Homo sapiens: one gene and its partners. The protein of the gene in region 1 interacts with the protein of each later gene in a pairwise test. Each region holds a gene or a part of one and is shown on either strand. Other genes may lie near its edges.

Region 1 (4,142 bases):
GAAATTCAGGAGAAAAGGGTATAGTTATTATAAAGACAGCAAATGCAAATTTGCACTTAGAATCATTACTTCTCTGTTTTATGAGAAAACTATACTTTAACAGTGTTCTACTACATTTTAAAAAAGATTAAAAATAAGTCCTCAATGTAATACACTATAAGAAGTTAGTGGATTGTTTCAAATTCTATGCTTACCCACTACTAAAAAAAAGTCTAAAATATTTTATAATTAAACAGAGCCACAACTGCACTGAATTTGCAAGCTTCTGGTTTTTCTGGCTGTTTGGACTTCAAATTAAATGATTAACAGATAACAATATGTTGGCCTGGTTAGCCACAAAAGCATGCTATTTGGTAAGATTTTACATGAATAAAAACAAACTTTTTTTTCTTGAGACGGAGTCCCACTCTGTTGCCCAGGCTGGAGTGCACTGGGGCAATCTCGGCTCACTGCAACCGCCGCCTCCCAGGTTCAAGCAATTCTCTGCCTCAGCCTCCCAAGTAGTTGGGATTACAGGCGCCCGCCACCACGCCTGGCTAATTTTTGTATTTTTTTTAGTAGAGACGGGGTTTCACCATCTTGTCCAGGCTGGTCTTGAACTCCTGACATCATAATCCACCCGCCTCGGCCTCCCAAAGTGCTGGGATTACAGGCATGACCCACTGTGCCTGGCCACAAACTTTGTTTTTTACAACAATTCTGGGTCAAATAAGAGCATTTAGGGCTGAGTGAGGTGGCTCACGCATGTAATCCCAGCACTTTGGGAGGCCGAGGCGGGTGGATCACCTGAGGTCAGGAGTTTGAGACCAGCCTGGCCAACATGGTGAAACCCTGTCTCTACTAAAAATACAAAAATTAGCCCGGCGTCGTGGCGTGCACTTATAATTCCAGCTACTCGGGAGGTTGAGGCAGGAGAATCGCTTGAACCTGGGAGAAGAAGGTTGCAGTAAGCCGAGATTGCGCCATTGCACTCCAGCCTGGATGATAAGAGCACAACTCTGTCTCAAAAAAAAAAAAAAAAGAGCATTTAGAAGATACTATAGTTTTTAGGGATCATGTTAATTTTGATGTAGCATCAAAAATAAAACTGTTCTTAGGTAGCAAAAATATACACACTGAGAATCCCTTGGAATCTGCATTTGTATATATACCGAGAATGTTTGGGACTCTGTATTCTATTTAGTTTCACTTCTCTCTGAGTCAAGAGTTCTGTTTAGCCAGCTGAAAATACTTTAACACGTTTGTATTCAACTAGAAGTTACAAATCCACAAAAATCACGGAATGCCTAAACAGTACAAACAAAGAATTAGGTCATATTAAAACAAAAGGTATCCACCGTGTTAAAAAAAATAAAGGTGATTTTATACAATTAAGGTATTTTCAAAGTTAAAATGTAAAAATAAAAATAAAATGTTAAAACATTTAGAAACATCAAGTTCTTAAAAAATTAAATTAGGAATTTGACAACACAAATTTACATCCACAGCAAATGTTTTTAAAGATTGCTGGTAACCTACAATCATGACCTGAGAGATAAGTCTCAAGAAAACTGTAAAAAATAGTCTCAAGACAATAGAAAATCAAGTATTAAAGTGAATATACAAACAGGAATAAAAATAATAAAAGTGAAAGCATCTAAGAAATTGTGGTCAAAGATAATCAAATGTCAGAGGATACCTTTGCTAATGCTAATTAAGGCTGAAAGGTAAGAAACCCTATCCTCTCTATCTGTTTTTTTCCATCTGAGAAAGCAGACCTTAATGACACTAAAGATTAAAAGAAGAATCCAAATCGGACAGATTTTTTTCTGGCAAGCTCTGACCACAGATTTGCGGGAGTGAAATGTCTTTTTGAAAGGTCTCTCCCTAGGACACTAACATCCTAGTTTTCTCCCCACAGCTGGCAGGTAGGTAGGTAAGTACGTAATACATTGAAAGTGATATATAAACTAGCAGTATCATGAAATCTCTTATCTTGTGAAGAGTTTGTGAATGTGATCGAAAAGTCATTTTCTACTGAAAACAATTTTTCCCTACTTTTCTCAAGAAGGTGTGTTAAGTCTTTTACAGCCAGTCTAACACAAGAATGCTATTCTCAGTTCCAAGTGAGATTACCTTTGAAGACTGAAAAACCATTCATCTGGTCATTATCTTCCCTATTTATAATGGTAAGGTAACTGTTACCCACTTCACTGAGGATATAATGATTTGATTTTTCAAAATACTTTGAAAGATAATAGTAATCAGTATTGGTAATATCAACTTATAAGAACTCTGTTATCCATTTTTTAAAAATGAAAACTGCCACATTAATGTTTATCAAATCTTTCCTAGTATTTTCTGGAATCATCTAAAATAACAATAGGACAAATGCTTCTTATAAAAGCCAATTAATTAATCAGATAAAATATAAAAACAATTATGTACAAATACATTCAAATATATATATATTTTTTACGTCACACAGGTAATGTGCCAGTGTCATAACAAGGTTTGAGAAAGGCACATTTCACACATAAGCATGAAAACCCAATCATCACACTTAAGAACTACAAAAGGATCAATATTCAAATATTTAAGTTTTGGTATGGTTAATATAAGTAAGAGTATTTAATTAATATCCTGACTCTTATAATTAACTATTATTAGTAGCCTACGTTTTGAAAATACAGTTTCAGAATTTGTTCTTGTACATCCTGAAGCATTTTTCTGGATATAGGCAAAAGCATAGCAAAATTTCTAGATCAATTTCCCCATACCAAAGGTACATTTTGTCTTGTTTACCTCTGTTATCACAGCACTTGGTATAGTGCCTGACACAGCAGATTTTATCAAATACTAATTTTAAAATCAATTATAAATATACAAGATTTATTATGAAGTATGATGCCGTCTCCTTTTAAATTAAAGCAGTCCTATACTTATAGCTCTTAAAATTTGAAAGTATATTAAAAAAAAGTGTTAAGCATATGTCTGCTGCTTTTTAAGGAAAGCTTTTAAAAACTTTAGACAAATATAGTATCATGGGATCTAAAGTGAGTACATTCAGTATCTGAGTTTTACCATACCAAAACAATGAAACACATACTTGCCACAGCTTCCTTAGCATTCTGTTCTTTGAAATGGAAGGGTATCCCTTCTAGTTAGATGTTTAGCTCAGGCCATCATTACCAACAGGTCCAAAGCAGCAGTCTGTCTTCTCCTACAAAAAAGTCATATTTTATTATTCTAGATATAATTTAGCCTTAGTCAGGAAATTTTTACAATTTAATGCCTTAGCTTTTAATAAATAAATGTAATTTTGAAAAAAAAAGTTTATTCCCTCATCAAAACTTTAAAAGAACCATTTAAATACCAATCCTAATATTGGTAGTAAACACAAAAACTACACATTAAAAAAACTCTATTTATATCATATAGAACAACTAAATAACTATTAGACCATTTTGAATAAAATTTCAAAACGTGAATATATGCCGTCTCTAGTGTGAAAATTGAGATGCAGAAATTGGGAGTTCTTTAAAATGAGTATACCGGCCGGGCGCGGTGGCTCACACCTGTAATCCCAGCACTTCGGGAGGCCAAGGCCGGCGGATCACCTGAGGTTGGGAGTTTGAGACCAGTCTGACCAACAAGGAGAAACCCCGTCTCTACTAAAAATACAAAATTAGCTGGGCGTGGTGGCGCATGCCTGTAATCCCAGCTACTCGGGAAGCTGAGGCAGGAGAATCGCTTGAACCGGGGAGGCAGAGGTTGCAGTGAGCCGAGATTGCGCCATTGCACCCCAGTCTGGGCAACAAGAGCGAAACTCTGACTCTAAATAAATAAATAAATAAATAAGTATACAAAGGTTATGAAGACAATTTAGTTAAACTAAGAAATGGGAGTAGTTGTATATGTTTATGTGTTAGTACATAAACCTAGTGATATTTGTATCCTAATTTATTATGTTAATCAGAATGGAGAGGATTATTAATGCTGACAACACAAGCCAAAACAAGTTAAACAAACTAGTAGTACTTGATCTACAAACATGGGGTTATCTAACAAAATGACTGGTGTTTAGCCATGTCGTTTTTGCCTGAAAGCTACTACCAAATGGCTTTACAATCAGTGCACTGTGAAGTATTAACATCATGCAA
Region 2 (4,142 bases), on another chromosome or scaffold:
TTTCTCTGTACCATATGATCCAGCAATTCCACTTCTAGGTATACACTCCCAAAAAACTGAAAGCAAGAACTCAAACAGAGGCTTGTACAGCAATATTCATAGCAGCATTACTCACAGTAGCCAAAAGGTAGAAACGACCCAAATGTCCATCAACAAAATGAATGGACAAAACATAGTGTACATATAAACAGAGTATTATTCAGTTTTAAAAAGGAATGCAATTCTGACACATGCTACAACATGGGTGAGCCTCAAAGACATTATGCCAAATGAAATAAGCTAGGCACAAAAGGATAAGTACTGCATGATTATGTATATGGAGTATTTAGAGTAGTTAAATTCATAGAGACAAAGTAGAATTGTTGTTGCCAGGGGCTGGAGGAAGGAGTTAATCGGAAGTTATCATTTAATGGGTTTCAGTTTGGGAAAATGAAAAAGTTCTGGAGATTGATGGTGATGGTTTTATAACAATGTGAATATAGTCAATGCCACTGAACTGTGCCCTTAAAAATAGTTCAAATGGCCAGGTGCAGTGGCTCATGCCTGTAATCCCAGCACTTTGGGAGGCCGAGGCAGGCAGATCACAAGGTCAGGAGATTGAGACCATCCTGGCTAACACGGTGAAACCCGTCTCTACTAAAAATACAAAAAATTAGCCAGGCATGGTGGCACACGCTTGTAGTCCCAGCTACTCGGGAGGCTGATGCAGGAGAATTGCTTGAACCCGGGAGGCAGAGGTTGCAGCGAGCCAAGATAGCACCACTGTACTCCAGCCTGGGTGACAGAGGGAGACTCTGTCTCAAAAAAAAAAAAAAAAAAAGTTCAAATGGCAAAGTTTCTGTTATTTTTATTTTATCATGTTAAAAGAAAAGACTTCCTCTGGTTAAATCAGAGAACCCTGGAACACTAGGGAATGGAATTCTTTACTTTTTAGCAATGTTATAATAAATTCCATAACATAGACCAGGTATTCCATAGGTAATACTGTTATGAATTTCCTACTTATTAATCTAAATCAACAGCTTTTAAGATAGACTGTAGCATCACGTGGAGGACACACCCTAGAATATCATTATAAAGAGAAAATAGGATAAGGAGACTCTATAGTTGAAAAAAAAAGTGCTCTATCAGGAAGACTCCCTGGTATACAGAAAGCAGAGAAAGGAATATGAAAATTTGGTTAAGGTAATTACCACTCTTAAATGTCAATGAACTCATCTGTAAAATGGGTATAATTTTCACTATTTAGTATTAAGACAATTCATGGAGGTTGATGGGACATAGTAGAAGTCAACAAGTATTAGTTTTTTTCTTTCTTACGTGAGTAGTTTTAAAAAGTAGTCATTAGGCTAGACGGAGAAGGGAAGTTATCTCAACTTTTTGTAACTTATGCTACTCATCTAACAAGCACTGCAAAAATGGTCTTTAAATTGCATTTTATATTTCTTCATTTAAAGAAATTCCCAGCAGGGTGCGGTGGCTCACGCCTGTAATCCCAGCACTTTGGGAGGCCGAGGCGGGTGGATCATAAGGTCAGGTGATAGAGACTATCTTGGCCAACATGGTGAAACCCTGTCTCTACTAAAATACGAAAAATTAGTTGGGCGTTGTGGCATGTGCCTGTAATCCCAGCTACTTGGGAGGCTGAGGCAGGGGAATCGCTTTAACTCAGGAGGCAGGGGTTGCAGTGAGCTGAGATCAAGCCACTGCACTCCAGACAGGCAATAGAGCAAGACTCTGTTTCAAAAAAAAAAAAAAAAAAAAAAAAAAGGAATTCCCAAAACTTTGACTAGAAGTATTCCTATATATATTTCTATTTACCTAATCACCTCTTCCTAGCTACTTTTGCACAGTTGAACTGCTTTTATAAACTCCTTCCTAGCTGTGCTGCTTACAAGCAGGGGCCTGGGCAAATGCTCTGTGCCTCGGTTTCTATGTGTATCAAATGAGATAATAACGATACCAGTCACATTGATTTGTCATGAAAGTTACTGGAAATTACTCATGGGAAGTGTTTACATCAGTATCGGCATGTGGTAAGTACTCAACGAGTATCAGCTATGAGCCATACTATTATTGCTATTACCACCACTGCTATATTCCAGTTCTTCTAAAATAAGGTTTTTGAAGCCTATTTTGGTGTTTGGCAAGTAAGTTTTGTGCCCTACTGGTCTAGCACAGGAATAATACTTTTTTCACATTACCTCCATGGCACTTACCTTGTAGCCACTCTTATAGAATGTTAGTACATTGTTCTGTATATAATGGCCACTTATTTTTTTTCTCTCTTCAATTGCTCACCCCTGAGGGCAAAGATGAGACTATACCTTCTTTCTATTGCTCCTTGTACCTATTTTATTGCTCTTTCGAGGTAAGGCTCCAAACCAGCTTGTTGGGTGAATAAATGAATGAAATAATGACTGCATGTAAGGGGTTCAGATTACCTAATTGAATTGTTGGAACAGCAATGTAGAGTGATAACCCAGGCTAGCAACTGGAGGTCTTAGTGTGATCTCAAGGGACCTTTTTCAAAGCAAGTGACCAAGATAAGAAAAAAGAAAGCAGATGGTTAAAGAGATCTAAAATGTTTTTATTAAACATTCTGCAATCTTTTAATGGCAGGACCCTAACAATGTGCTGGGACATGGGGTCACGTATCAACAAGGAAAAAAGTCAAGAGGAAAAGTCCCTCAGAGTTAGTCTGCTTTATAGAGTTTCTTTTTAGCAAGTCAGTTTTTCCAGTGTAAGGTATGTTCATGGGCACTGATCTTCTTGGAGTGAAGTTAACACAACAATAATGACAACAATAGCAAAACTGAGGTTTCTAGGAGAGAAATTCCTCTTTTCCCCTCTGAGGGGCAACTCATTGACAACTCAATGTTGTCAATTGTATCCCTTATTCTATCATTTATCTGTGAAAGCCAGTAATAGCACCGTCACCTCCTCCACCACCTTCCACCTTGCCCTGTCAGAAGAGTCCTTGCCTTCTCAGTTTCTCAGTCTCTGTGTGGCTTCTTTCCAGCCACACAATGTAACCTCCAACCTCATGTTCTTGACCTTGTTTAGTTCCTACTTCTTTTTGATGGACAAGAATCTCATTCTTCCTAAGGACATTCTGTTACTGGCTTCTTGTGGGGGTGTTCCCATCTTCATTCCTGCCCCCACACCAGTTCTTTTCCATATCTACCATATCTATATTGGTCAAGAAGAGTTTGGCCTAGTTTTTCCTGCTATAGTGTGTGTGGTGGAATGAATAGACTTTCTTTTCCTTAATGTGAAATATTAGAATACTGATTATCATTATTGAAACTGCCCAGTCTTCCCTTTTGAGAATCACCTGTTGAGAATCACTGTTCTCACCATAAACTCAGCAATAAAGGACTCAGTAGATTAAGTGTCAAGAAGCAAAGGTGGGAAAATCCTCCCCACAACTAGTACGGAGTTACCCACAGGTGCTCTTCTTTTCAAATACTTTGCATCTGGGGGGAAGCTTTGGCTTGTTTTACAAGGAAAAGAGGAGACTTCCTTTTTGGTCAGCCAACAATCTCTATCCTTTTATTCCGTGCATATTTCATGTATTTGTTCCCCAGCTCACATGGAGCAATACAGCATGCCAGAGTTTGTGTCTTGGGCCAAGTACTCAGGGATGGAGAGTCCACAAGCTGGGCTATTGAAGAGCTTAGGAGAACCTCAGGAAGGCCTTCAGCCAAGCACCTCCCACTGCTCCATGCTTGCCTTAATATTTTTCTTCATTCCCTCTGAAGGAGAATTGCAGAATAACCATTCATATAAATCCAAGTAAAGAGAATGTATTTTTAGAATATCTTCCCATCCACACATTGAACCTCTCCCATGAATAATGTGTCCGTGTTCTCTTTCTCTCTCCACATATACACAAATACAGTCTCCTGAGCCAACCCAGTAAAGTGTTTGTACCATGTTATTAAGTCTCCGGAATGTATTTGGTTTAAGGTCTGGTTACTGCTATAAAGAGCATGGGAAACCTGATGGTGGGGCGTTGGGATCGCCATGGGACCGCAGGCTAACTGGAGGCATTATGTGAAACTATGCAGTGGGAACATAATTACCTCAATCTCACCCTTTCTACACCATATACTTTGACCTTCCTGGAATGACTAATA
Region 3 (4,142 bases), on another chromosome or scaffold:
CCTGGGTGACAAGAATGAAACTCTGTCTCAAAAAAAAAAAAAAAGAAAACGGATACTGTAGGCCGGGTGCGGTGGCTCATGCTTGTAATCCCAGCACTTTGGGAGGCCGAGGTAGGGAGATCACCTGAGGTCAGGAGTTTGAGACCAGCCTGGCCAACATGGTGAAACCCTGTCTCTACTAAAAATACAACAATTAGCCAGGCGTGGTGGCAAGCGCCTGTAATCCTAGCTACTCGGGGGGCTGGGACAGGAGAATCACTTGAACCCAGGAGGCAGAGGTTGCTGTGAGCCAAGATCGTGCCACTGTACTCCAGCCTGGGTGACAGAGTGAGACTCCGTCTCAAAAGAAAAGAAAATGGATACTGATGTAACCACCTGGTTTTCTCAGTAGCAGTGGCTTAGCAGCATCAGGTTGTCAAGGCTCATGGGGTAAAGGGCAGAGGAGGATTTCAGAAATAGACTTAGGAAGAAGGGGACAAAGAAACTTCACATCTGTCCTACAATTCTGTCGATATCTTCTAGTAAAATATTATTATCATTATGATTTTTTGAGACTGAGTCTCGCTCTATCACCCAGGCTGGAGTGCAGTGGCACAATATCAGCTCACTGCAACCTCCGCCTCCCAGGTTCAAATGATTCTTGTGCCTCAACCTCCCGAGTAGCTGGGATTCTAGGCGCCTGCCACCACACCCAGCTAATTTTTGTATTTTTAGTAAAGACAGGGTTTCACCATGTTGGTCAGGCTGGTCTCAAACTCCTGACCTCAACTGATCTGCCTGCCTCAGCCTCCCAAAGTGCTGGGATTATAGGCATGAGCCACTGTGCCCGCCATAAAATATTATTTTAACCACTGAGAGCCTGAGACCCTGGCATCCCTTCTACACAATCCAGACCAGATTTTCAGCTGGTGCCTTGCCTCTTTGTCTAAACCAACTCCTCGGCCACAGGGAGAGAGGGAGGGAGGCACACATTTACCCATCTGGTAGCTGCTCAATAAATAGGTGAACCAATTCTTCCCCATCTTCTTTTTACCTCATTACACACTCTCCTCAAATGTGGTCTCCTCTGTGATGCCCTGACTCTTTCCTAATCGAGCACCTCCTTCAGTCCTGGCCTCCCAATGCCTCTGGCTTCTTCCCAGTGCTGATCAGGACCTGACATTACACCATGGACCCGCACGTGGTGCCTATCTCCCCCACTAGAACACAGCTCCAACCAGCCAGGACCTTGGCCTAATTACAGTTGCATCCACAGTGATCAGGTGAACTGTGATGGGGTAGAGGACAGAAAAGCATCCGACCTGACATCTGGCAGAGTTACAGGAGGATAAACAACCAAGGTACGGAGGACAAGGCCTCAGGACCCTCTGCTCTGCACTACAAACACAGGGTATGCTGGGAGGGCCGTGGTGCAAAGGCAGAGGTAAGGGATGACAAGCTGCGTTTCGCAGAGCTCAGGGTTTACCAGGGGCTGTTTACTCCTTATTTTATTTAATGTTTAATATGTTCACACTTCAAAAGGGAAACTGGAAAAAACTTTCTAAAACCCTGCAGTTGAAGCAATTTCAAATCTTTGATTCTTAGTTAAAACAGAAATAACCTTAAAAAATAGATGCCACATAAAGGCCAATCTAATGATCGGTTATACGGTTTCAAAGGGCCAATTTGTACCTTCTGAAAGAGACAAACGCTAGGTGTACTACCGAGATAAATTTTCATCTTGATGCCCACTTGTTGCCGAAAGTATTCTCTCTACATAAGTGAATCAACTCCCGATAATTTGATAAGAATGAAAGACCAGTGGGGTTCTGACCCCACTGTTTTTTGAAACTGATATTTACACAAAAATAAACAATGTAATCAACAATGTGGCTGAAAGATAGCAAACCAAGATTTTCTACATATATAGTCCACATTTAGGGTCTCTATTCAACCATTTTGACTAACAGGTGGCTGATTTAATTACTTGAAGGGAATTCTCCTTCTACCAGAAGGAAGGCGCTTCAAGCACACTGCTCATCTACCTTAACCGTAACCTTCAGAGGCTGCTGTGACCCCCTCACCCCTTATCCAGAGGAACACCTAGTCACTACGTCCTCACCCTGTTTTATTTTCCCTCATGCACCACCACCTGGGATACTTTAGATTTTTTTGTTCAGGTCCTGGCACAGATCAGACACTCAGTTAAGTATTAAATAAATGAATGAATATTACTATCCACATTTTTTTTAGATAAGGAAACTGAGGCTCAGAGGCTAAATAATGTGCCTAAGATCAAACGTCAGGCAAACTGCACAGCAGGGATTTGAACCAGGTCTGTCAGAAATCCAAAGCTCCTGTTCTTTCTTTCCCATGTATCTATCTCCCTGCCTGATTACTAAGCAAATCATTACATACTGGGCTGGCACCAGCATCAAACATTGGGATGAAACATCTTGCTCTTCACAATAAGGAAGTCTCTGCAGTGCATTCAGTTTCTTCCTTTCCATAAATGAAGGCACTAAGAGGTTCTCTAAAAAAGAAGGCTGGGCCAGGTGCGGAGGCTCATGCCTGTAATTCCAGCACTTTGGGAGGCCAACGCAGGCAGGTCACCTGAGGTCAGGAATTCGAGACCAGCCTGCTTAACATGGTGAAACTCTGTCTCTGCTAAAAAAAAAAAATACAAAAAATTAGCTGGGCATGATGGCTCGTGCCTACAGTCCCAGCTACTTGGGAGGCTGAGACACGAGAATTGCTTGAACCCAGAGGCAGAAGTTGCAGTGAGCCACGATCGCACCACTGCACTGCAGCCTGGGCAACAGAGTAAGACTCCATCTCAAAAAAATAAAAATAAAAAAGAAGGCTGCCTTGACTTCCAAAAATAAGAAATTCCCATTTCATTATTACTAATTATTTTTGCCACAATGCAAATCTAAAATCAGATCTGACTTACGCTGTTGGAAGCTTCAGAAAAGATATTCCACACCTGGTCCAGAATGGATTCATTATGAACTTTTAAACTGTTCTTCATCCAATTCTGTAAGAAAGAAAAAGAAAAAGAACTATTGATCCCACTTGGACAGGTACACACAAGCTCAGTCACTGATGGGCCACACGGCCCCCTCCATTCAAGAAAGTCAATTCATACCTGAAATTTTGCCTTTTTCCTGGGAACGTTGTCAAAAGCACTAATTTGCTCTAAAAGTTCTCTCACTTTGGGGCTGACATTGGGTCTCTTTATTAATTCACTAATTTTCTACAAAAAGGGAAGAAAAAAGAAAAACTATTAATAAACAACCAACATGAGTTTCATGAAAGCCAATTGAAAAAGTCCTTGCCATGGCTAAAGCGTTCACGTTTTAAGCCCAGATTCTGTATTTATGTCTATGCTTAAAAATATATAGGTTAACTTCTATTAACATAGTACTGGAGTCCTAGCCAGAGCAGTTAGGCAAGAAAACAAAATAAAAGGCATCCTAACTGCAAAGGATGAAGTAAAATTATCTCTGTTCACAGATGATGTGGTCTTATATGTCAAAAGTCCTAAAGAGTCCACACAAAAATTGTTAGAATAAACAAATCCAGCAAAGTTGCAGGATACAAAATCCACATTCAAAAATCAAGTTGCATTTTATATAACAACCAGAAAGAGAAATTAAGAAAACAATTCCATTTGCAACAGCATCAAAAAGAATAATCAGGAATAAACTTAACTGAAGAGGCAAAAGACTTGTTTACTGAAAACCAAAAAACACTGCTGAAAGAAATTAAAGTAGACACAAATAAATGAAAAACATTCCGTACTCATGGACTGGGAGACTTAAAGTTGTTAAGATGTTAATACTACCCAAGCAATCTACAGATTCAATACAATTCCTATCAAAATCCAATGTGTGTGTATATATACGTTTTTACAGAAACAGAAAAATCCATCCTAAAACTCACAGGGAATCTCAAAAGATACCAAATAGCCAAAACAATCTTGAAAAGAACAACAAAAATGCAGATCTCATATTTTCTGATTTCAAAACTTATTACAAAGCTGTAATAAGTTTCTGTAGTTTGCTGACCCCTGCTTCAGAGGATTTCATCGAGTGTGACAGCAGCAGAGACGGAACTCACAGACCCATGCACCTCAACCTTAGGGTCTAGGAACGTCATCT
Region 4 (4,142 bases), on another chromosome or scaffold:
GGCCAGAGCCCTTGAAGATGACAATATTGCTATCATGTATTCTGTTAGGGGACTCTCAAACATAAAAACTGCTCAAACTCTTCACGCTCCAGTGGTAATTAGAGTCCATGCAACACTCAAGCACTGTAAGGAGTTTTAGGTTCTTTCTCATTCTTTTTAAGTCCTGGGACACAGTAGTAAGGATTTTTTTTTCCTTATTTTTTTTTTCTGTCCCCCAAGCTGGAATGCAGTGGTACGATCGTGGTTCACTACAGCCTCACCCTCCTGGGCTCAAGTGATCCTCCCACCTCGGCCTCCGGAGTAGCTGGGACTACAGGCACATGCCACCACACCCAGCTAATTATTATTTGTAGAGACAGGGTCTTGCTATATTGCCCAGGCTGATCTCAAACTCCTGGGTTCAGCTGATCCTCCCGCCTCGCCTCCCAAAGTGCTGGGATTACAGGCGTGAGCCACTGTGCCTGGCCTAGTCAGGATTATTTTTGTCCATCTTGATCAGGGAAAGCCCAATAATTCACCACTAATTCATCATTCTTGGTAGCTAACATAGATAAGAAAAATAAGAACAAGCTACCTGCTATATGAGCAGACAAAAAGGAAAAACTCTTTCATAAACAGGTGAATTCAAATTAAAACTATGTTGGCTTTATCTTTTCTATTAAAAATGTATATTTAACTTAGATCTACTCACTGCCCCACTAATTCAGTTTTTTTATGTTGTTGTTGTTGTTTTTGAGACAGAGTCTCACTTTGTGGCACAGGCTGGAGTGCAGTGGTACGATCTCGGCTCACTGAAACTTCTGCCTCTGGAGTTCAAGCCATTTTCCTGCCTCAGCCGCCCATGTCACTGGGACCACAGGCATGCACCACCATGCCCAGCTAATTTTTGTATTTTCAGTAGAGGTGGGGTTTCACCATGTTGACCATGCTGGTCTCAAACTCCTGATCTCAGGTGATCTGTCTGCCTCGGCCTCCCAAAGTGCTGGGATTACAGGTGTAAGCCACCACGCCTGACCCTAATTGGGTTTTAAAAGTCCAAGATATGACTCAAGGAAGTCACTTAAAAAAAAATTAGTCAGACGTGATGGTGCATGCCTGTGGTCTCTGCCACTCAAGAGGCTTAATGTGGGAAGATCACTTGAGCCTGGGAGGCAGAGGTTGTAGCAAGCCGTGATCGCACCACTGCATTCCAGCCTGGGTGACAGGGCATGACTCTGTCTCTAAAATAAAATAAATAAAACAAAATACATAAATAACACATTTTAAAAAATTTTAAGAAACAGGATTCTTTTGGAAACTAGTCTTCTAGCATAGCAACAGGAAATGGCGGTGTTTGTCAGACCATGGGAGAGCCCCTTCCCTTTTCCTTAAGAGCCTATCAATAAAAATGTCACCACTACCCTCTTAGATCATCTTGAATTCCCCCCTACAGAGCTTCACACACCTCCAGAAGTTGTGGGTTAGTATATTGTAATGTAGCCATTTCTTGCTCAATTTCTGCTTGTGTTTTTTTCTTCTCTTCCAATTTAATGTCTTCTTTTCTGTCATTCAGCACCTCATTTGGAGCAGGAATTGGAACTTTATTTTGCATCCAAGCCTTGGGAAAGAAGAGAATATTAAAATGTACGCTAAGTATGAAAATTACAATGATAGAATGAGAAAACCACTCTACAATGTCATCTGCTCAATCTAACCTCTGAACCGATTTTATTTCTTTTTACCTTTTCTCCATGACTCAAGTACATGACTCATGCTAATTCTTACTGACATATTACTAGGTAGAAATTACTATGGTGATAAAAGCTGCAAGACACTGCATGTTATTAAGAATGCAAAGCTTGCCAGCCTCTTCACAGGGTACATGCACTTTGTGTTGAGGGGACAATTAAAGCACAAGATAGATAAACAATGGAGAAGAGAAGCAACATACTCCCATACTCCCTCTGCTCCATGCCTCTTTCTTCTATTTCCTCTCATAGCATGGATGATAATAAGCAGGTGAGGACAGAACAGAGAAGACTGATAACAAACTCAATACAACTGCAAAGCAGTAGATGAGAACCATGTCTAAGAGTACGTGAACATGGGAAAAATGCTCCAGTACAGAAACACCTTCAACAGTGAGATAATCCAAGAGAAACCTCAAACTAACCAACCAAAACCTCTCTGCGTGGATGAGGTGGAGTCACTTTTACTTACCTGCTGGAACTGAGCAGGAATGGGTTTTGCATAAGGAACTTTCTTCTGAGGTACTTTTTTCTGATCCTTTTGCATCACTTCCTCCATTCCCCAATCTAAACCTGGAATTGTCATTTCAATTTCATTTGATTCATCTTTCCCTGTAACCGTAAAGAAAAGTGGTTTGCCTCTTAAATAAAAGAAATTGGCCACTTGATCAATGAACACATTATTGGAAGAATAGATTTTAAGTATTATGTCATTTATATAATTTTTATCAACATTTCTCAACATAAATCATTTTGGTATTTCAATATATTTATCAGGAACATAAACGGGTCAAGAAAAAATTTGTAAAAATTAAATGTGTCTGTGTAACTTCTCTTACCCATCTGTTCTTGTTCCATAGCTAATTTTAGTTGTTCTGGTATTCCCATTCCTGGAATTACTGCCAGGCTATTAGGTTCGAGGTCATCTATAAATAGTAATACACCATTGTCAATAGAGAATTTACAAAAGTAGCGACTGATAAAATTAATGCTTTATAAAAATGAATGTCACTGATGATTTATAAATAAATCTACTATAAAATTAAAATTCATTTTGTATAATCTTCCCAACATCTAACACTTCTGTAATAGAATACCAGATTTCAAAGAAGGACAGATGTGCAAGAGTCTCACCATATTCTACTCCATCTTCAGACATTCCAGGTAAAAGGTTTAGATTATATCGATCTCGCATTTTATCACCTGGTCGGTTTCGAGTCCAGAATTTGCTGTAAAAATAATTAAAGGAGAAAAGAAGCATGGCTTCACTATTTTTTTGGGCACTAAACAGTACTAGGCAGACCCTTGGTAAACACAACACATTTTTACAATTTGTTTCTTCTACAAATTTAAAATGTGAGGTCATACACTTTGGCTCACATCTGTAATCCCAGCACTTTGGGAGGCTGTGGCAGGAGGATTAAGTCCAGGAGTCCAAGACCAGCCTGGGCAACATAGCGAAACCCTGTCTCTACAAAATAAAAATTAAAAAGTTAGCTGGGTGTGGTGGCACACACCTGTAGTCTCAGCTACTCACGAGGATAAGGCGGGAAGATGGCTTGAGCCCAGGAGTTTGAGGCTACAGTGAGCTGTGATCTCACCACAGAACTCTAGTCTCGGTGACAGAGTGAGACTCTGTCTCTTAAAATAATAATAAAAATAAAAATAAAATGTGGGGCCGGGCAAGGTGGCTCATGCCTGTAATCCCAGCACCTTGGGAGGCTGAGGCAGGAGGATTGCCTAAGCCCAGGAGTTTGACATCAGCCTGGGCAACATGGTGAAACCCCATCTCTACAAAAAATGCAAAAATTAGCCAGGTGTGGTGGTGTGCTCCTATAGTCTCAGCTACTCAGGAGGCTGAGGTAGGAGGATCACCTGAGCCCAGGAAGGTTGAGGCTATAGTGAGCTGAGACCGCACCATTGCACGCCAGCCTGGACAGAGACCCTGTCTCAAATAAATAAATAAATAAATAAATAAAAGTGGAAAACTTCTGTTTTAAGTCAGAAGGCAAAACAAAATTTGAATAGCCAAAACCATATTCAATACCCAATCTCTTTATTGCAATATAAGTATTTGTAAACCACTACAAAAATATTCCCAAGAATAAGTTGGAATATAAATTACTATATCAATCAACCAATAAAAATAAACACATACAGTATTTATTTCCTGTTGCTCCATATAAAGCTTTGCTATTTCAATATAAAGCTTACCTAGTATGGTCATTTGAGCCTGAGCAGAGAATATGCCCAAGAGGATGCCAAGCCAGACTCCAGATCATCCCTTCGTGAGCCATCTCCATCCCACCCACTTCCTTCTCTACCCTGCAACAGCACCAAAGAGAGAAGATTTGTTCACAAAAGTTACCCAGCTTCTCCCTCCCCCTCAAAAAAGACATTTTCTGTTACTCTTAA
Region 5 (3,234 bases), on another chromosome or scaffold:
GTCTGACTGATAAATTAACTCAGGCCCAGATCTTTGACTACGGTGAAATCCCCAACTTTCCCCGAAGTACAGGTACTGGCAAGGGAAAGTGGGGAATGGGACTGAGGGATGTTCTTGGAATTCTGTGGAACACAACCAAGGAGGCCAATGTTTCTACTCCTTGACCTAGCATTTCACTGAAGACAAATGTTGTAAGAGAGGAGAAAAGCCCACCATGAGTCAGAGTGACTTTAGGAGATGCCTCTAGCAGACATCCCATAAGAGACAGGACATGTGTGTGTCAGTGGACTGAGGCTAAGACTCAGAAGAGGGCCAGGTGACAGGGGCCAAGTAAAGGGCAAGGGTTGTTTATTTGGTTTACGTAATTTCTCAAATAACTAACTTCTGTTGGTTTATTTATTAATTTTTAAGATTTCTATCTTCTTTTCCCTGGAGAGTTAAGAATTTTTTTTTAAGACCTGTCAGCAGGAAAAGACCTTTAATAGCTATTTTTTTAAACTCTTTAACACAAGACTGGAAGAGCAGAGGGAGAAGGTGAGGGAAATATTAACAGAGGGTGTGTGAAGGGCATACTTCTCTAAGGGAGATAGTAGTGACGCTGGCTCCACTGGCCACTCCTACCCCCAGTGAGAAGGGCACTGCATTAAATGATAAGTGGGTTAGTTTTTTTAAGCTTATCAACATGTTTATTTTTTATACTCCACTTGGGTTTCCTTTGTCAACTTTATTACTGTTTTTGTTTTGTTTTTTTGCATAAGCTCCTCTATCTTTGAGAATTTCTCAGCTCTTCCTCTTGGTTCTAGTCCCTCTCCCATTCCCTAAGGGATAGGTTGGCCGTCTATTAGAAGTGACTGCCAGATAAAAGAAATGGTAATAATGGCTGTTATGTCTGTGGGGAGTTATCTTTGCACTCCCACGCACCCCTCCGTGGGCATGTGTTCCCATAGGACTGTTCCGTGGGTCATAAGGAAAGAGACACTTGCATGCGTTCAAATTCTTTCCCCCTTGTTCAGTAGCCTCTTCTTTAAGAAGCCAGAGTAAGTATACTATGAGCTTGCTTGCTGGACTGAGGAGGCAGGTAATTAAGTTAGGGCAATAGATAAGAATACATGTTTTGAGAACTTTGAAAAATTTGAAGAGGTCTATAATTACTGCATTCACTGTACTCACTTTATTTTGAAACAGAGTCTCGCTCTGTCACCCAGGCTCGAGTGTAGTGTTGTGATCTCGGCTCACTGCAACCTCCACCTCCCAAGTTCAAGAGATTCTCCCACCTCAGCCTCCCGAGTAGCTGGGATTACAGGCATGTGCCACCACACCTGGCTAATTTTTGTATTTTTAGTAGAGATGAGGTTTCACCATGTTGGCCAGGGTGGTCTTGAACTCCTGGCCTGTTGATCCGCCTGTCTTGGGCTCCCGAAGTGCTGGGACTACAGGTGTGAGACACCGCACCTGGCCTATTTTTAATTTTAATTTTTATAGATTTACAGGGGTACAATGCAGTTTTGTTATATGGATATACTGCGTGGTGGTGACGTCTGTGCTTTAGTGTAACCATCACCTGAGCAGTGAACATTGTACTTATTAGGTAATTTCTCATCCCTCATCCCCATCCCACTTTCTCACCTTTCCGAGTCCCCAGTGTCTATTATTTCACTCTGTAGGTCCATATGTACACATTTGGTTCCCACTTATAAGTGAGAACATGTAGTATTTAATCTTCCATTTCTGAGTATCTACTTTTTTTGCTCACTTTTTACTCTCTGGCAGTATGGCTTGTATTATCTTGAAATTTCTTTAAAAAGCCCTTCCTTCTTTGTGTGTTCATGCTGAACATGCTGAACGCACCCCATATCTCTAATCTTGGGTTGTATTTGTATAATTATTAGTAATGCCTGGCTCTCTCACCAGACTTAAACTTTCTGAAAGCAGAGATAATAATGAGTCTTTTACTTAATTACAACCTAACATTTTGAGCAGAGCGAGTAACTCACAGTAGGTGCTTAATGGATATGTGTTGCATGAAAATATAATCCCATTCATTTCTCTTTCTGTTTTGTATACAGTGCCAGGTCATGCTGGCCGACTGGTGTTTGGGTTCCTGAATGGCAGGGCCTGTGTGATGATGCAGGGCAGGTTCCACATGTATGAAGGGTACCCACTCTGGAAGGTAAGTCAGAGGGATAGGTCCGGTTGGATCTGGAAGAGGCAGGAGAGAACTATCTAGCCTCTTTCACTACCTAGCTATCTGGGCTAGGTGGATTTTTGGTCCTCTCCTTCCTTTTCTTTCACGATGTATGTCATGCATTTCAGTGTAGCTGAATTAATGAAATTTTGTAAATTTTTTTCGGATTGTTTGCTTCGAAGGTGACATTCCCAGTGAGGGTTTTCCACCTTCTGGGTGTGGACACCCTGGTAGTCACCAATGCAGCAGGAGGGCTGAACCCCAAGTTTGAGGTTGGAGATATCATGCTGATCCGTGACCATATCAACCTACCTGGTTTCAGTGGTCAGAACCCTCTCAGAGGGCCCAATGATGAAAGGTATGTATGTTACTCCGTTTTTTTTAGGTGGGTAGGATTTAAAGACTTCTCTAGGAGCTGTGGGAGAATTTTTAAAATTCCGTTTATGTGAGATAATTCAACCTGTGTCCTAGGTTTGGAGATCGTTTCCCTGCCATGTCTGATGCCTACGACCGGACTATGAGGCAGAGGGCTCTCAGTACCTGGAAACAAATGGGGGAGCAACGTGAGCTACAGGAAGGCACCTATGTGATGGTGGCAGGCCCCAGCTTTGAGACTGTGGCAGAATGTCGTGTGCTGCAGAAGCTGGGAGCAGACGCTGTTGGTGAGAAGGGGAATTTGGCTGGAAGCTTGAAGAGGGAGGGGTTTAGCAAAATGGGAAGGGGAAGGAGTAGGAAATAACAGGCCTCATTGGACTGAGAGGATCTGATTTCAGGGAAGGGTGAATTAAACTGACTTATTGAAATACAAACTGGTGAGATTTGGTGTAGCATCAAATCTCCCTACGAAGCACCAAGGGGTTAACAGCTGCAGTGCTAATGAATGATCTATCCATGATTTGATGACTGTTTTTTGAGACGGAATGTCGCTGTGTTGCCCAGGCTGGAGTGCAGTGGCATGATCTCGGCTCACTGCAACCTCCGCCTCCCGGGTTCAAGCAATTCTCATGCCTCAGCCTTCCGAGTAGCTGGGATTACAGACGTGTGCCACC
Region 6 (4,142 bases), on another chromosome or scaffold:
ATATATATTATATATACGTATATATAATATATATATGCAGCAAATATCTTTTACTCCTTCCGTTTTTTTCTACTGAGTTAAGAAATTCATTCAGAAATACTTTAAGTTTCAAATTCCTTTTGGCTTACGCTTATGTCACTTACACTTTTACAAAGTTAAATCTTTCCATTCAACTTCTTCATCAAACTAGCAGGATTTTAAAAAGCTTCCCCCACCTGGTTTATTTTAAAGGGCATTTCCCTTGTGTATGTTTCGTCAAACGGTTCATTCCACTTTCCTTTGAAGTAGATGGCATTGACAAGAACCAGCCTGGTTTCTGCATCAATTGAGCTACCCGGCAACAACTCTTCAATTTTACCTTTCAAGAAAAGTAGAGACTACATTCAGTTGCTTTTTATAAGAACCTGATGCATTGGATGATCCTGGATCATTAGTTGAGAAGCAAACTTCTGTTTTCAACTTTGCTGAGTTTGGGTTGTTATGTAGAGAAATAAAAACAGCACATATGAGTGGTATTCATGATTACTGACACCTTGAGAACATCCACCAAGTTGAGGATGGTGAAAGATACCTAAGTCACTCGAGGAAAGCAGGTTGGTACAAAGTAGAAAAATTACACCAGGTTGGAGAACAAGACCAGCAGGAAATGTGATAGGCTGAAGGGGTGTTTGTCTCACATGGTTAATTGGAGTGTTTGATCCAACCCTTCATGATCACACCCAGTTCTAACATTCTGTGACTATACATGGACATGTCAGAAGCAACCAGAATGGACGGCTCAAAGCGGGAAGAGCTGACATTGGGCACATGGGGAGTTTCCAGAAGCTTTTGGAGGAGATATTCCTGCTGAATCCCCTCAACAAAGCACTAGGCATCCCTGGAAAAGAGGATGTGGGCAAACAAAGATCACCCCTTCTTTCCCTGGAGATCAAGTGGTACTGTTTCAATGAACTGAGGGCATCCCTGCTAACCCACTGCCTGAAGAGAGCATCCGTGGTAAATACTCCAAGCAGGAATGCGGGAAACAACTGCTGAGACTTTAAGCGAAGAACGTCTCCCATTCTTTACCGTCTCATTTATTCACAGAAATGGAAATGTTCCTGGTGGTACTAAGCATAATTGGCGCAGAGGAGTCTGAATGGTTCATCAGACCATCATTGGTCTTGGAGGCCTAGACTGGAACACGTCACTTTCTGAAATGTAGATGAATAAGGTTCAACCCCAAATGGAGGGTATTTTCAGTCTGTGGAACTGATCAGCCCTGAGAGAGGGTCGGCAGTTAACCAATCAAATGTAGGCTTATCAAGTCAAACTAAAGGAGCTTAAGTGGAAGACATGAAAAGTCAGGAGTGACCTTAGCAGGTAAAGGTAATGGTGATGGAGGTCCCCCAGAACCTAGGAAGAGGCAGCCCAAGTGTATACCTCAGGCAAGATCTGTCCACCAATCTCCTTCTCGCAGAGACAATGGAGTCACCTGACATGTGAATGTTACAGGCCAGGGAGAGTATATTTTAATGCAAGTTATTAAACTGGAAACCTGGCCTGAGATTCTTTTGACATTTGTTTTTTTGTTTGTTTTTTGTTTTTGAGACAGGCTGGAGTTCAGTGGCATGATCTCAGCTCACTACAACTTCTGCCTCCCAGGTTCAAGTGATTCTCATGTCTCAGCCTCCCAAGCAGCTGGGATTACAGGCATGGGCCACCACACCTGGCTAATTTTTGTATTTTTAGTAGAGATGTTGGGCGGGGGGGGGTCCCACCATGTTGGTCAGGCTGGTCTCGAACTCCTGACCTCAAGTGATATGTCCACTTCGGCCTTCTAAATTGCTGGGATTACAGGCGAGAGCCACCGTGGCTGGCCCTCTTTTGACATTTGTATCAGCTACTCTGGTCCTGGGAGAATAGACAAAAGTAAATCTCTGTTGCTGAAAACCTGAATGTCTGATCAGAACCTTTATGAGTCCATCAAGGTTCAGTATGCCAGGAGGCCCTGCCAGTCAACACTACTCTGACCATCTGAAACACCCGTGAAATTAGAGGGGGCGGAGTGGAGAGGTGGAGGTGGGTGAGGAGAGGGAGGAGGGATAGGAGGGAGAGGAGGAGGAGAGAGGATATAAGAGGCGGGAAGGAGGAATAGGAAGAGCCGCAGGAGGAGGACGGGTTGGGAGGAAGGTGCAATAACTTGTCATTCTGACCTTCGGTCTTTTTTGAGACCCAGGTGTTGATGTGTTTCCTGGACTCTTCTGCAGCTCTGATAAAGGAAAGCTCCTTCAGCTCAGCATGGTAGAATTGAAGACAGGATTCCTTAAACGTCTTTGGAGAGAAAAATGTTCAGTGAGGCTGCATTGCTAAATACAAATGTCAGCAAACTTCCAAAAATTCTAAATATGTTATCTTTTTTTAATAAAAAGAATATACATAACTCTTTAAAAGTGATCATATGAAGATATGTTAAAATATCAGAGTTTGTGAATAGGTATGTATTGAACCCTGAATAACCAGAAATGAACTTGAGAATTTTACCTTTCAATTTTACCTTTCAAGAAAAGTAGAGACTACTTTTGCAATACTAATGCAAGGTATAATTATAGAATTGCAGTCTTTAAAAAAAAAAAGAAGTTTAGGCTGGGCGTGGTGGCTCACATCTGTAATCCCAACAGGCAGGAGGATCACTTGAGACCAGGAGTTTAAGACCAGCCTGGGCAACGTAGTGAGACCCCATCTTAGAAAAAAAAATAGTGCAATTTTTTTAAATTGGTTAACATAAATTTCTCAATTTCTCTAGGGTCTTTCTCCCAGACTCTATATCACCAGGTATGTTGAATGCAACTTTTATTGTTCTATTGATTCAACTTACTGAGAGGAACTGACAAGTTTTCTCTCCAAAGAGCCTGTTGGCCGTTCTCAGCAGGTACTGTGTGCCAGCCTTGTTCACTTCAGTGAGAAGCGACTGGAAAGCCCGATGAATGTCTTCCTCTGTGTTTAAAGACAGTGCCTGTTGTGAAAGATAATTTTAAAAGTTATCAAGATAGCTCTTTGATGGCTGGGGAGAGGAGAGAGAGGGGACAGAAAACAGGCGAGTAAAAGATGTAGCCATTCTGCCTGAATGGATCTCGCTTGTTTAAAGATCAGTAACACACAAAAAATGACAAGGGTGAGAAAAGCTCAGAAAAGAGGTTGTGATAAAATCTTGCATCAAAAGGAAAATATAAATGTACCCTAAGTGGTGGGAAAATTACCTCTAAAATTTATAGTGAAAAAAAAAGATGCAGTTAAAAAGTTAAAAGCAGAAAAAATGCATGGAAAAATAGACGGAAATACAATCATCAGAATCCTCAAAAGGAAACAAGGATATTACATGAGCAATGTGATTAATAAGACAATAACACAGTTATTAAAATTGTACCCTATAGGGACTACATGTGTGTATATTAAATATTTCAAAATATATCACACATATTGGGCCATAAGAAAAGTCTCAACATCCCAATACATTCTGAAATACAGAATTATATAGATCATATTCTCTAACTTCAATGTAGTAACAAAAAATCAGCATTATAAATAAAATGCCAACAAAATGAAAATCACCTACAAAATATTACTGAAAACACTTTTCTAAATAATTAACTCTTCAAAGTAAAAATTAAAATACTTTTCTAGGCCAGGCACAGTGGCTCATGCCTATAATCCCAGCACTTTTGGAGGCCAAGGCAGGAGGATTGTTTGAGCCCAAGAGTTTGAGGCTAGCCTGGGCAACATTGCAAGATCCCATCTCCACTTAGCTGGGCATGATGGTGTGTGCCTGTGGTCCCAGCTACTTGGAAGGCTGAGATGGGAGGATTGCTGGAGCCCAGGACTTTGAGGCTGCAGTGAGCTATGATCAAGCTGCTGCACTCCAGCCTAGGAGACAGAGCAAGACCATGTCAAAAAAAAAAAAAAAACACAAAAAATCCTCTTCTAAACAAATATTTAAAATATTCTTCTAGGCTGGGCACAGTGGCTCATGCCTGTAATCCCAGCACTTTGGGGGGCCGAGGCGGGCAGATCACTTGAGGTCAGGAGTTCAAGACCAGCCTGGCCAAGATGGCGAAATCCTGTCTCTACTAAAAATACGAAAATTAGCCGGGTGTGGTGATGCT
Region 7 (4,142 bases), on another chromosome or scaffold:
GCCTGGCAAAGGGGCAGCTAGGAGGGGATGCAGGTGCCCATCTGATTTTAAAGCAAACTCTCCCTCCTTTGTGTATGGAGAGACGTGCGCAGCAGGAAGGGTTCAAGTGAGGCAAAGGTGAGGACTTCCTAGGTGCAGCAAGAAAGAAATCCAGTGACAGAGAGGCTGAGCCTGGGGCCGGCTGTGGGAAGCAGCAGGAGACCCCTTCGGAGAGGAAGCCTGACCCCACAGCCCCCAGCACTGCGGGCTCTGGTCACTGAGGAGTTAAGCCCGGCCCCCACCCCGTGGGCCTAGAAGAGGCCTGCCCGGCCCCAGCCTCCTCCCTCAAGTTGGCCATGTCCCCACAGGCAGGGAAGGTCGGGGGCGGTTGAAAAAAGGGCCCTTTGAGGGAAGAGGGAGGTGGGGCGGGGTAACCCAGGACACAGAACCCTAACTTTGCCACTCTGTGCCTCAGTGTCCCCACTGGTCACACGGGTACATAGCCAGGCCCTCCATCCCCGAGCCTGGAGGAGGCTGGCCAAGGATGCCGGACTCCGTGGAGGGACCCCTCACCCTCCACGTCCTGCTCTGCAGAGGGGGTGCTGCCGGCTATCTTTCCTGACTTGGGGGGCTGGAGTGCACAGGAGGCTTCAACACGATGGGGCTCGCAGGCCCCTGGCAGTGCCAGCACTGCTCCAGGCTTCTGGACACCCAGGCAAGGAGGTGCCCTTTGGTGGTCAGGAACAGGGACCAGAGGCCTGGGCCTGGCTGTGCCAGGAGGGCAGTGCTCATGGGGAACTCTCTGGCCTGGGCACAGGGGCCTGGGCAGCTAGGAGGGGCAGCTGGAAGACCCTCTGGCCCACATTCTGCCAAGGGGCTGGGGTGGTGCCCAGATTCCACCTGAAAACAGCCACCATTCGGGAAGGGGGTGCGAGCAAACCCGGCTGGCCCAGAACCGCCCTCTCGTCAGCCTGGCAGGTGGTCCCAGTCCTCACCCACCTGCCTGACTCCCACTCCCAGCTCCAAATGACTCCAGGTTAGGCCTAGCCTCTCCATAAGACAGGCCTGCAGAGCCCACTGAGGCCTGGGCCCCAAGCATGTGGGGTCCAGAGAGATGTCCAGGTGCCCTCAAGATGGCTCAGATCTATTCTCCTGAAGACAGTGGCCACCAGAGAAGGCCAGCGACTTTCTGAGGCCACACAGCCGCCAGGCAGGGCTAACTGCTGTACGCTGGCTTTGTGCTGCGTGGCTGCTTGGGGTGAGGACTGATTTGCCTACCAGGCTTGGCAGGCTTTTTTTTTTTTTTGAGATGGAGTCTCACACTCTCACCCAGGCTGGAGTGCAGTGGCACGATCTCCGCTCACTGCAAGCTCTGCCTCCTGGGTTCACGCCATTCTCCTGCCTCAGCCTCCCGAGTAGCTGGGACTACAGGTGCCTGCCACCACGCCTGGCTAATTTTTTGTATTTTTAGTAGAGATGGGGTTTCACCATATTAGCCAGGATGGTGTTGCTCTCCTGACCCCATGATCTGCCCGCCTCGGCCTCCCAAAGTGCTGGGATTACAGGTGTGAGCCACTGCGCCTTGCCGGCAGGCTTTCTTTTAAAATTGCTCTGCGTGTCACTTAAAAAAAATTGTTTTCATTGTTACAAGGACAAAAGAGACCAGGTGCGAAAGTGGCCAAGACTGTAATCCCAGCACTTTGGGAGATTGAGGCAGGTGCACTGCTTGAGCTCAGGAGTTTACGACCAGCCTGGGCAACACAGCAAGATTCCATCTCTACGAAACATTAAAAAATTAGTTGGGGCCGGGCGTGGTGGCTCACGCCTGTAATCCCAGCACTTTGGGAGGCCGAGGCAAGCGGATCACGAGGTCAGGAGCTTAAGACCATCCTGGCTAACAAGGTGAAACCCCGTCTCTACTGAAAATACAAAAAATTAGCCGGGCATGGTGGCACATGCCTGTAGTCCCAGCTACTCAGGAGGCTGAGGCAGAAGAATCGCTTGAACCCAGGAGGTAGAGGTTTCAGTGAGCCGAGATCGTGCCATTGCACTCCAGCCTGGGCAACAGAGTGAGACTCTGTCTCAAAAAAAAAAAAAAAAAAAAAAAAAAAAATTAGTTGGGTGTGGTGGTGAACACATGTGGTCCCAAGCTACTCAGGAGGCTGAGGCAGGAGGATGGCTTGAGCCCGAGTTAGAGGCTACAGTGAGCCACGATCCCACCACTGCACTGTAGCCTGGGCGATACACCGAGACACTTTTTTTTTTGAGGTGGAGTCTCGCTCTGCAGCCCAGGCTGGAGTGCAGCGATGCAGTCTCAGCTCACTGCAACCTCTACCTCCCAGAGACCCTGACTCTCTAAAAAAAAAAGAAAAAGAAAAAGAAAAAAGATTAAACGGGGCCTCACCAACGTGAGGTCAGACCGCCGCCGCCCGTCTTCCTCCCACAGCAACTGCCTCCACGACCCTGGCCGTCCGTGACCCGCCAGGTCCCGCAGCACCCTCGGCCCCGCTGAGGCAACGAGAAGGGGCTGCTTAGACCACAGCTCCCTCTGTGCTCCTCTCACCCCTCCCGGCCTCTGTGCTGTCCCGGAATGAGGCTCCAGCTCTTCTGCTGCTTAGACCCCTGTGGGCTGGAGCACCTGGGGCCAGCAACACGAGGTGTGACCCCACAGGCCTCCGCACAGCAGCTCCCACTGCCAAGTGCCCCCTCTGCCATCCGTATCCTCCAGAGACCTCCCCAGCCACAGCCGGGGGGCCATGGACCCCCAGAGTGACAGGCGGCCCCTGATCGATCTCCTCCGGGTGCAGGGCCCCCCGCTTCACCCAGCACAGGGCGGGTTTCCAGGGTGGACTTGGCACCCCTCGGCCGAGGTGGCCTGAGCTGCTCACCCAGTGCCTTGCACAGCTCCGGGTGCTTTACCCCAATGGTCTTCAGCCTCTGCAGCAGCTCCGATGAGGTCAGCTGCCGCACCAGGTACAGGGCCACCGAGTAGCTCTGGGGACAGAAGGAAGGGGTCAGGGCTGGCAGGACGGGGCCGGGGTTGGGGGGCAGGGTGGGCACCCGGGCACGCACTCACCTTGCCGTAGTTCCCCCAGGTGACAGTGATGCGGTTGGTGGCCGAGGACAGGTACATGAGGTGGGTGAGGTTGATGGGGCGGCACGGCCTCTTGGGCTCCACCCCGGGCTTATTGGAGGGGTAGTAGCCCTGCAAGCAGATGGGCCGCTCAGCCTCGAGCCAAGAGCGGCTGGGAAATCCGACGGCCCCCACCCTCCCTCCACGCCCCCCAAACCCGTGCAGCCGACGCGGGGGCGGGGCATGCTCACCGGGACGGAGCAGTAGCTGTGGTTGACCTTCACAGCGATGTTGGGCGGGTACTGGTCCTCCTGAGGGCAGCTGGTGTCTGAGTAACAGATTCTGCAACGACAACAGGGACCATGGGGCGGGGAGGGGGCGCACAGGAGGGACTAGGCTGCTGCGGGGGTACACGAGTGGTAGCCAGGCGGCAGTGATGGGGGCACCGGAGAATGTGACACGGGGGGTATCAGGGCCCCCGGGTGTGGCCTGAGTGGGGGTCGGATGGTGATGTATCCCCAGACAGGGATAGACAGCAGGTGAGGAGAGCTGGGCTCTGCTGTTAGCAGGGGAGACTGAGAAGGGCCTGGGCCAGGACTGGGGGGCGGGGAGGGGCGGGTGGCTGGGGGTCCAGCCCTGGGGTCGCGGGCACACCTGGGCATACCTCAGGACGACCTGCACGGCTTTAACTCCGGGCTGCAGTTCCCTGTGGGTGTGGAGCAAACCAGAGGAAAGGAAAGGAGAGCTGAGTGAGGAGGGCGTGACCCCAGCCCACCCGACAAGGTGGAGACCGCCACACCACAAGGCTCCCTCCCCCAGAGCTGGGAAACTGAGGCCCAGGACTCTTTTGTACGGGCTGGGTGAGAGGAGTGGCTGTGAGGTCAGGAGAGGGGCTGGCCTCCCTGGAAAATGCAACAGAATCCACAGCAAAACCCTGAACCAGAGAGGGCAGCCAGGTGCCTCTCCCTGCGAAGAAACATAGCTAAAACGTGCATGCGGGAATCTAGCAGCTGGCTCACAATGGCAAGAAAACACCCAGTTTGGGAGGTCAAGGCTGGCGGAGCTCTTGAGCCCAGGAATTTGAGACGAG

What was found.
Region 2: the proteins of ZHX1 (region 1) and LAMA4 interact in a two-hybrid assay, tested with the Homo sapiens proteins (one large-scale study listed by BioGRID and IntAct).
Region 3: the proteins of ZHX1 (region 1) and LYAR interact in a two-hybrid assay, tested with the Homo sapiens proteins (one large-scale study listed by BioGRID and IntAct).
Region 4: the proteins of ZHX1 (region 1) and WDR33 interact in a two-hybrid assay, tested with the Homo sapiens proteins (one large-scale study listed by BioGRID and IntAct).
Region 5: the proteins of ZHX1 (region 1) and PNP interact in a two-hybrid assay, tested with the Homo sapiens proteins (one large-scale study listed by BioGRID and IntAct).
Region 6: the proteins of ZHX1 (region 1) and SERPINB9 interact in a two-hybrid assay, tested with the Homo sapiens proteins (one large-scale study listed by BioGRID and IntAct).
Region 7: the proteins of ZHX1 (region 1) and PIAS4 interact in a two-hybrid assay, tested with the Homo sapiens proteins (one large-scale study listed by BioGRID and IntAct).

The regions. Positions count from the first base shown.
Region 1 is NC_000008.11:123,264,185-123,268,326, forward strand, and holds part of ZHX1 (zinc fingers and homeoboxes protein 1), read right to left. Parts: intron 3,203-4,142; 5' UTR 3,110-3,202; coding exon of another isoform or gene 3,089-3,109; intron 2,562-3,088; exon of another isoform or gene 2,458-2,561; intron 1-2,457. Other genes in the region: ZHX1-C8orf76 (zinc fingers and homeoboxes protein 1), read right to left, coding at 3,089-3,109. UniProt on the Homo sapiens protein: Acts as a transcriptional repressor. Increases DNMT3B-mediated repressive transcriptional activity when DNMT3B is tethered to DNA. May link molecule between DNMT3B and other co-repressor proteins.
Region 2 is NC_000006.12:112,247,698-112,251,839, forward strand, and holds part of LAMA4 (laminin subunit alpha-4 isoform 1 precursor), read right to left. Parts: intron 1-4,142. UniProt on the Homo sapiens protein: Binding to cells via a high affinity receptor, laminin is thought to mediate the attachment, migration and organization of cells into tissues during embryonic development by interacting with other extracellular matrix components.
Region 3 is NC_000004.12:4,276,515-4,280,656, forward strand, and holds part of LYAR (cell growth-regulating nucleolar protein), read right to left. Parts: intron 3,236-4,142; coding exon 3,128-3,235; intron 3,017-3,127; coding exon 2,933-3,016; intron 1-2,932. UniProt on the Homo sapiens protein: Plays a role in the maintenance of the appropriate processing of 47S/45S pre-rRNA to 32S/30S pre-rRNAs and their subsequent processing to produce 18S and 28S rRNAs. Also acts at the level of transcription regulation.
Region 4 is NC_000002.12:127,720,392-127,724,533, forward strand, and holds part of WDR33 (pre-mRNA 3' end processing protein WDR33), read right to left. Parts: intron 4,053-4,142; coding exon 3,942-4,052; intron 2,957-3,941; coding exon 2,862-2,956; intron 2,654-2,861; coding exon 2,567-2,653; intron 2,340-2,566; coding exon 2,200-2,339; intron 1,598-2,199; coding exon 1,445-1,597; intron 1-1,444. UniProt on the Homo sapiens protein: Essential for both cleavage and polyadenylation of pre-mRNA 3' ends.
Region 5 is NC_000014.9:20,472,406-20,475,639, forward strand, and holds part of PNP (purine nucleoside phosphorylase), read left to right. Parts: coding exon 1-72; intron 73-2,066; coding exon 2,067-2,170; intron 2,171-2,367; coding exon 2,368-2,543; intron 2,544-2,656; coding exon 2,657-2,847; intron 2,848-3,234. UniProt on the Homo sapiens protein: Catalyzes the phosphorolytic breakdown of the N-glycosidic bond in the beta-(deoxy)ribonucleoside molecules, with the formation of the corresponding free purine bases and pentose-1-phosphate.
Region 6 is NC_000006.12:2,893,196-2,897,337, forward strand, and holds part of SERPINB9 (serpin B9), read right to left. Parts: intron 2,996-4,142; coding exon 2,858-2,995; intron 2,314-2,857; coding exon 2,196-2,313; intron 359-2,195; coding exon 216-358; intron 1-215. UniProt on the Homo sapiens protein: Granzyme B inhibitor.
Region 7 is NC_000019.10:4,027,762-4,031,903, reverse strand, and holds part of PIAS4 (E3 SUMO-protein ligase PIAS4), read right to left. Parts: intron 3,759-4,142; coding exon 3,717-3,758; exon of another isoform or gene 3,715-3,716; coding exon of another isoform or gene 3,707-3,714; intron 3,395-3,706; coding exon 3,304-3,394; intron 3,185-3,303; coding exon 3,056-3,184; intron 2,974-3,055; coding exon 2,868-2,973; intron 1-2,867.